Homo sapiens: one gene and its partner. The protein of the gene in region 1 binds, or shares a complex with, the protein of each later gene. Each region holds a gene or a part of one and is shown on either strand. Other genes may lie near its edges.

Region 1 (3,827 bases):
TTTGAGGTCTGATTTTTAAAAATCCTATTTAAATTCCAGATTTAGAGAGAAGAATATGGTGTTATATTGTTTCGCCTATAAAGGCAAAGAAATATTTAATGTCATGCTAATGTTCCAATATCATTTTTCACATTTCTGCAAGGTTAAGGCCATTTTATCAGCTTAGAACCTATATCCAACCTGCTGTAATTTGGCTGGGTTTTTGTGTTTCTGCCACAGACATTTAATCACTCCCAAATCTGTCAAAAAAATTTCTACAATTTCAGAGGTACTTGATATATTTTAGCAAAGATAAGCTACTGGAACTTTTAAAACCAGGTTGCTTTTTGCTGTTTTTTCCAGTGTTGAAAGATAAGATTTCTCTTGCTTTCTGTCTTCATAGACTACTACTGGAGAATGCCACTTTGAAAATTATCAAAGAGTGTGTGCATTAGAGCAGCAAAAGAGTGCAATGCAGACCTTGAAAGGCATAGTCCGGTTCTTGTCCAAGACTGATAAGAGGCTATTGGTAAGTTTCAGTTTTTCAGGTTGTAGTTCCTGCTTTCCAACAGAGAAGTGAGACACTTAAAATCAAGTCAATGGGTTTGAGCTGTCACTTCAATAATAAGAGAGAAGACAAGTTTAGGTAGTATTCTTGCGTGGAAGGAACAAGCATGGTTGGAAAGTTGAGATAGACCCAGGGTCTATCCCATATATAAACATGTTGGCCGGGTGTGATGGCTCACGCCTGTAATCCCAGCACTTTGGGAGGCCGAGGTGGGCAGATCACAAGGTCAGGAGTTCGAGACCAGCCTGGCCAACAGAGTGAAACCCCGTCTCTACTAAAAATACAAAAATTAGACAGGTGCCTGTAATCCCAGCTACTCAGGAGGCTGAGGCAGGAGAATTGCTTGAATCCGGGAGGTGGAGGTTGCAGTGAGCCGAGATCACGCCACTGCACTCCAGCCTGGGTGACAGAGCAAGACTCCATCTCAAAAAGAAAAAAAAAAATGTTATACAGTTTCATTTTTTTATCTAACAAATGCCCACTATTTGCCAACAAGACATTGTTCCAGACCCTTCAGGACACCAAGAGGTTGTCTTCACCTGGGCAGCCTTTGTGGCATGGGTTAATTTTCATTCTTTTCAGCTTAGTGAATGTATGAAAAGAAACTGGAGAAGCATTCATCACCTTGAAATGATCCACGTTTTACAACAAACAAAGAATACGTAACTTAGCAAGACTCTGATTAGGAACATTTTTTAAAAATTCTGTCCCAGAAGATTATGTTAATACAAATAATAAGAACATATGCTGCAGTTTAAATACTTTATTATAATTTAGAAAACAAACATTCATGTCTTGTTTAAAGGTAATTTAAATGCCACTAAGGAAAGCAGATGTTTAATTTCATATTTATGGAAAGATGATTTTCAAAATGCCATTAGAGTATATATTAAATTCTATATAAAATATTTTAAAAATATTTTCCAATGTTGAAAATTTTAATGTAGCACTTTTATATTCCCTTCAAGTACTGCATAAAAGCTGATCCACATTGTTTAAATTTCTTGTGTAATTTTGGGAAAATGGAAAGTGGAAAAGAAGCCAGTGTTCATATCCAACTGGAAGGCCGGCCATCCATTTTAGAAATGGTAAGTAAGTCTAAAACATTGACAACTTGGTGGCTAAGTTTACATAAAATCTATAAATTCAGTCATATAGGCAGGATAGTATGAAGGCATTCAACAAATTAAATTTTAAATAAAATTTTGGAGTAAAACTCTAAAACTGTATTTCTATCACTTCAACTATCTACATTGACTAAGTGAAATGGCTTTAGAAATTAACAGGTAATAAAGGCTAAAATAGGCCAGGCACAGTGGCTCATGCCTGTAATCCCAGCACTTTGGGAGGCCAAGGCAGGAGGATCACTTGAGGCCAGGAGTTCGAGACCAGTTGTATTCCTAGGTAGATGTCTGGTGTTATTTCTGAGGTCTCTGTTCTGTTCCATTGGCCTCTGTATCTGTTTTGGTTAGCCTTGTAGTACAGTTTGAAGTCGGGTAGCCTGATGCCTCCAGCTTTCTTTTTGCTTAGGATTGTCTTGACTATATGGGCTCTTTTATGGTTCCATAGGAAATTTAAAGTAGTTTTTTCTAATTCTGTGAAGAAAGTCAATGGTAGCTTGATGGGAGTAGCCTTGAATCTGTAAATTACTTTGGGCAGTATGGCCATTTTCACGATATTGATTCTTCCTATCCATGAGCATAGAATATTTTTTTCCATTTGTTTGTGTCCTCTTATTTCCTTGAGCAGTGGTTTGTAGTGCTCCTTGAAGAGGTCCTTCACATCCCTTGTAAGTTGGATTCCTAGGTATTTTATTCTGTTTGTAGTGAATGGGAATTCACTCATGATTTGGCTCTCTGCTTGTCTATTATTGTATACGAATGCTTGTGACTTTTGCACATTGATTTTTGTATCCTGAGACTTTGCTGAAGTTGCTTATAAGCTTAAGGAGTTTTGGGGCTGAGACCATGGAGTTTTCTAAATATACAATCATGTCACCTGCAAACAATTTGACTTCCTCTCTTCCTATTTGAATACCCTTTGTTGCTTTCTCTTGCCTGATTGCCCTGGCCAGAACTTCCAATACTGTGTTGAATAGGAGTGGTGAGAGAGGGCATCCTTGTCTTGTGACGGTTTTCAAAGGGAATGCTTCCAGTTTTTGCCCATTCAGTATGATATTGGCTATGGGTTTGTCATAAATAGCTCTTATTGAGATATGTTCCATCAACACCTAGTTTATTGAGAGTTTTTAGCATGAAGGGATGATGAATTTTATTGAAGCCCTTTTATTTTAAAAATATAGCTAAGAAGAAAAACTAAGGCTTTCATAAAATCAAATAAAATCAAAATTCAACAACAAAAACATATTTAAATTTTAAAAATAATGAAATATATCTTGGACTTTTTCCTACAAAGGAGCATGTATATTTATGAGGAGTAGTTTGAGATGAAACTAGTTTTATGTGGAGTTCTGTTTTTCAGCTTTCTCATCTGTTCAATATGGATAAATGAGATGATTTTTATAAGCACTTAGTTCATGGAACATAGGAAGCCAAAGGAAATGGCAGCTGTTATGTTCAAGTGGAATTCTTGAAATTGCCAAACAGTGCTTAAGAGGAAGATACACTAGACAGGCAAAGAAGAAATATCCATTTTAGTTTCAACTGTGCTAAAAGCAAAGTCATTGAACCATCAGCAAGTCATTTAACCTTTTGCAGTTTGCCTTATCTTTTTCTCTAGGTCTAGGTTTTCCATCAGTGGCCATAATTGGCATTTTGAACCAGATAATTTTGTTTTGGGGGGTTGTCCTGTGCATTGTAGGATATTTAGTATCATCCTCAGCCTCTATACGCTCACTGCTGGTAGTACCACCTCCCACGTTCTGACACTTGACAGTTTCTTTAGACATTCCTGACTGTCCCTTAGGTGATAAAACCCTCCCTGCTGAGAACCACTGCTCTAGATCTATAGGAAGCTTGTCATTTTTGGCTCTAAAATGTTAAATAACATTTACACAATAGTTTTAAAGGTCATATCCCTCTTTAAGAATCTGACTAAATATATTCTCATCTCCCTCAGCAAATGCACACATGAAAACATCTCCTAAAGATTCTTAGAATTTATAAAGCCCTTCTACAGATCCCCAAGCTTCATGGATTCTGCGTTATAAAATCCTTGCTTTAGATAGTAAAGTTCTGAGTTCATCCACTGATTTTATATTTGAATTCTATAATGTATTTAATTTAGAAAGAAATAAAAAGCCCAAATAAGATAGATTCAA
Region 2 (2,826 bases), on another chromosome or scaffold:
CTAGTACACTGTAAATGCTCAATAAATATTGATGATGGGAGGCAGTGAGTCTTGATGATAAGGGTGAGAAACTGAAATCCCAAACACTGTTTTGTTGCTTGTTTTATTATGACCTCAGATTAAATTGGGAAATATTGGCCCTTTTGAATAATTGTCCCAAATATTACATTCAAATAAAAGTGCAATGGAGACCTTGGGGTCTTTATTTCCAGGAGAAAAGATACCTTCTGCATCTAGGGCAACAATCCTTTTCCCTCGCAGCTCTTTCTTTTACCTCACTTACTGATTTCTCCTGACCCCCAAGCCAAGGAGGTAAAATAATTATATATATATATATATATATATATATATATATATAAAGTAATTATATTTTATAGCTAGACTGAAGAGGTGGGAATTTTTTTGTTGTTTTTTTTTTTTTTGGAGACAAGAGTCTTGCTCTGTCACCCAGGCTTGAGTGCAGTGGTGCGATCTCGGCTGAGTGCAACCTCCGCCTGCTGGGTTCAAGCGATTCTCCTGCCTCAGCCTCCCAAGTAGCTGGGATTACAGGTGCCCGCCACCACACCTGGCTAATTTTTGTGTTTTTAGTAGAGACAGGGTTTCACCATGTTGTCCAGGCTGGTCTTGAATTCCCGACCTCAGGCAATCCGCCCATCTCAACCTCCCAAAGTGCTGGGATTACAGGCATAAGCCACCGCGCCCAGTAGAGATGTGATATTATTCAAGTAAATAAAACCTGAAACTTGGCACATTTGCCTATTTAATGTGCATCAGTCATCTGAACTAGGTTGATCCTGGAATAATGAAAACACTTCACTAGTATTAACTAATGTTTTCTACATAGTAGTTCCCAATAGATTAAGGAAAATTTCCAACCTGAGATTCTTTGTTTTGGAATTTGAATAATGTGTTTGTAACTATTCCTTGATTGTCCCAAATCCAGGCTTTACGTCTGCTTTTGTCAATGTAACATCCTAGTGCCAGGAAATTGGAAAATCCAATGACTTTTTGTGTGTAAAGTACTGGAATTTTTTTGTTCGTTTGTTTTTAAGACGGAGTGTCAACTCTCGCCCAGGCTGGGGTGCAGTGGCCTGATCTCGGCTCACTGCAACCTTCTCCTCCCAGGCTGAAGTGATTCTCCTGCCTCAGCCTCGCAAGTAGCTGGGACTGCAGGCATGTGCCACCACTCCTGGCTAATTATTTGTATTTTTAGTAGAGAGAGGGTTTCACCGTGTTAGCCATGATGGTCTCATTCTCCTGACCTTGTGATCCGCCCACCTCGGCCTCCCAAAGTGCTGGGATTACAGGCGTGAGCCACTGTGCCCACCCTGGTATGTTTTTTTTAAATTGGCCACTTAAGAGTTGTCCTTCAGAAAGTGGAGCAGCAGTGTGATTAGTAAAAACGATGGGCTTTCCTGCAGCTCTGGCTTATGGTCTTTGTTTTTCCAGTTAACAGCTGTTACTTCATGCTGTTATAGGGGGTGGGGGGAGAAAGAGAAAGAATATGTCTAGTGGCTTAATTTTGGGGCTCAATTTGTTTATTATGTTTTTCCTGCAAAAGAGTCACCAGTCTTGTCATGGCTCAATGCATATTTTAAAATGAGTCAAAGCCAATTTGGAAGCTGCTATCTTAGGTTATTTGTAGTCAGGCTTCAAATGGAGAGTGAAACTTTGACTTTGAAAACTGGTGCTCTATGCTCAATGATGGTCTTACACATTCCTCTAGGGAAAGGTCAAGAAATAAATTTGGCTTGATTGTATTCTCTCATTTACCATATAGGAAATACTATGGTAGAACTGAAAATATGTACAATAGTAAAGTGGTGGCTGAGACTGGGCACTTGGAAAATAGACTTGGATTCTTTTCTAAGTGTGAAACTAATTAAATACTTTTATGTGACTGGTAGTAGTCACAGTCTCCTTGATTGATTCTAGTTCCTTTTCAAAGTGGAGAGACCTGAATATAGATTGTAACAGGATGTCCAACCTTGCCAGACAAGCAGGCATATATGTCTCTGGGATGCAGAAGCAGTTACAAGTTAATATATTTAAGCATAATGTTAGCCAATCCTAGGTGATACCAGAGATGTGAATATTTGATCATATTTGAGTTCATTCCTTGAAAGTCCAAACCTAACTGGTCTTAATTGATTACTTCTTAGTATTCCGAATTTTAGAATTTAAAACCCTATGAATTTTCAGTTTGTGCTTACATTTTCTAACATTGGATGTTTGCTTTGGCCAGCTGCTGTTCTGTGTGTTTTCTTACAAAGGCTTAGAGATTCTGGCTGGGTGTGGTGGCTCACGCCTGTAATCCCAGCACTTTGGGAGGCTGAGGCGGGTGGATCACCTGAGGTCAGGTGTTTGAGACCAGCCTGGCCAACATGGTGAGACCCCATCTCTACTAAAAATACAAAAAATTTAGCCGGGCATGGTGGTGCGTGCCTGTAATCCCAGCTCCTCGGGAGGCTGAGGCAGGAGAATTGCTTGAACCCGAGAGGCGGACGTTGCAGTGAGCCAAGATCATGCCATTGTACTCCAGCCTGGGCAACAAGAGCAAAACTCTGTCAAAAAAAAAAAGGGCGGGGGGCGCTTAGAGATTCATGTTTGAGTGAAGATTTGCAGAATGGGACCCAAATGGATATACAGCACAATCAAGATGCAGGGAATTAAGAACTTAACATGTGCTTGTAGGTTTGGGTTTGGGGGCTATGTGGGAGTATAAAAAATAGGCTATGTCTAGACTCCCGAGGGGAACTCGTTTTAAATGCCTATTCTCAGCATTCAGTTTCAAGAATTCTGAATATTTAGGTTGGAGCCCAGGAA

What was found.
Region 2: the proteins of ITGA4 (region 1) and YWHAZ are in contact, whole or in part, in a crystal structure (PDB 4HKC), measured with the Homo sapiens proteins. Residues at the interface, in NP_000876.3 of Homo sapiens: Arg1007, Gln1008, Tyr1009, Lys1010, Ser1011, Ile1012, Leu1013; in NP_001129171.1 of Homo sapiens: Lys49, Arg56, Lys120, Arg127, Tyr128, Glu131, Gly169, Leu172, Asn173, Val176, Tyr179, Glu180, Ile217, Leu220, Asn224, Leu227, Trp228.

What each region holds. Positions count from the first base shown.
Region 1 is NC_000002.12:181,530,142-181,533,968, forward strand, and holds part of ITGA4 (integrin alpha-4 isoform 1 preproprotein), read left to right. Parts: intron 1-382; coding exon 383-508; intron 509-1,515; coding exon 1,516-1,635; intron 1,636-3,827. UniProt on the Homo sapiens protein: Integrins alpha-4/beta-1 (VLA-4) and alpha-4/beta-7 are receptors for fibronectin. They recognize one or more domains within the alternatively spliced CS-1 and CS-5 regions of fibronectin. They are also receptors for VCAM1.
Region 2 is NC_000008.11:100,915,941-100,918,766, reverse strand, and holds the end of YWHAZ (14-3-3 protein zeta/delta), read left to right. Parts: 3' UTR 1-2,244; downstream 2,245-2,826.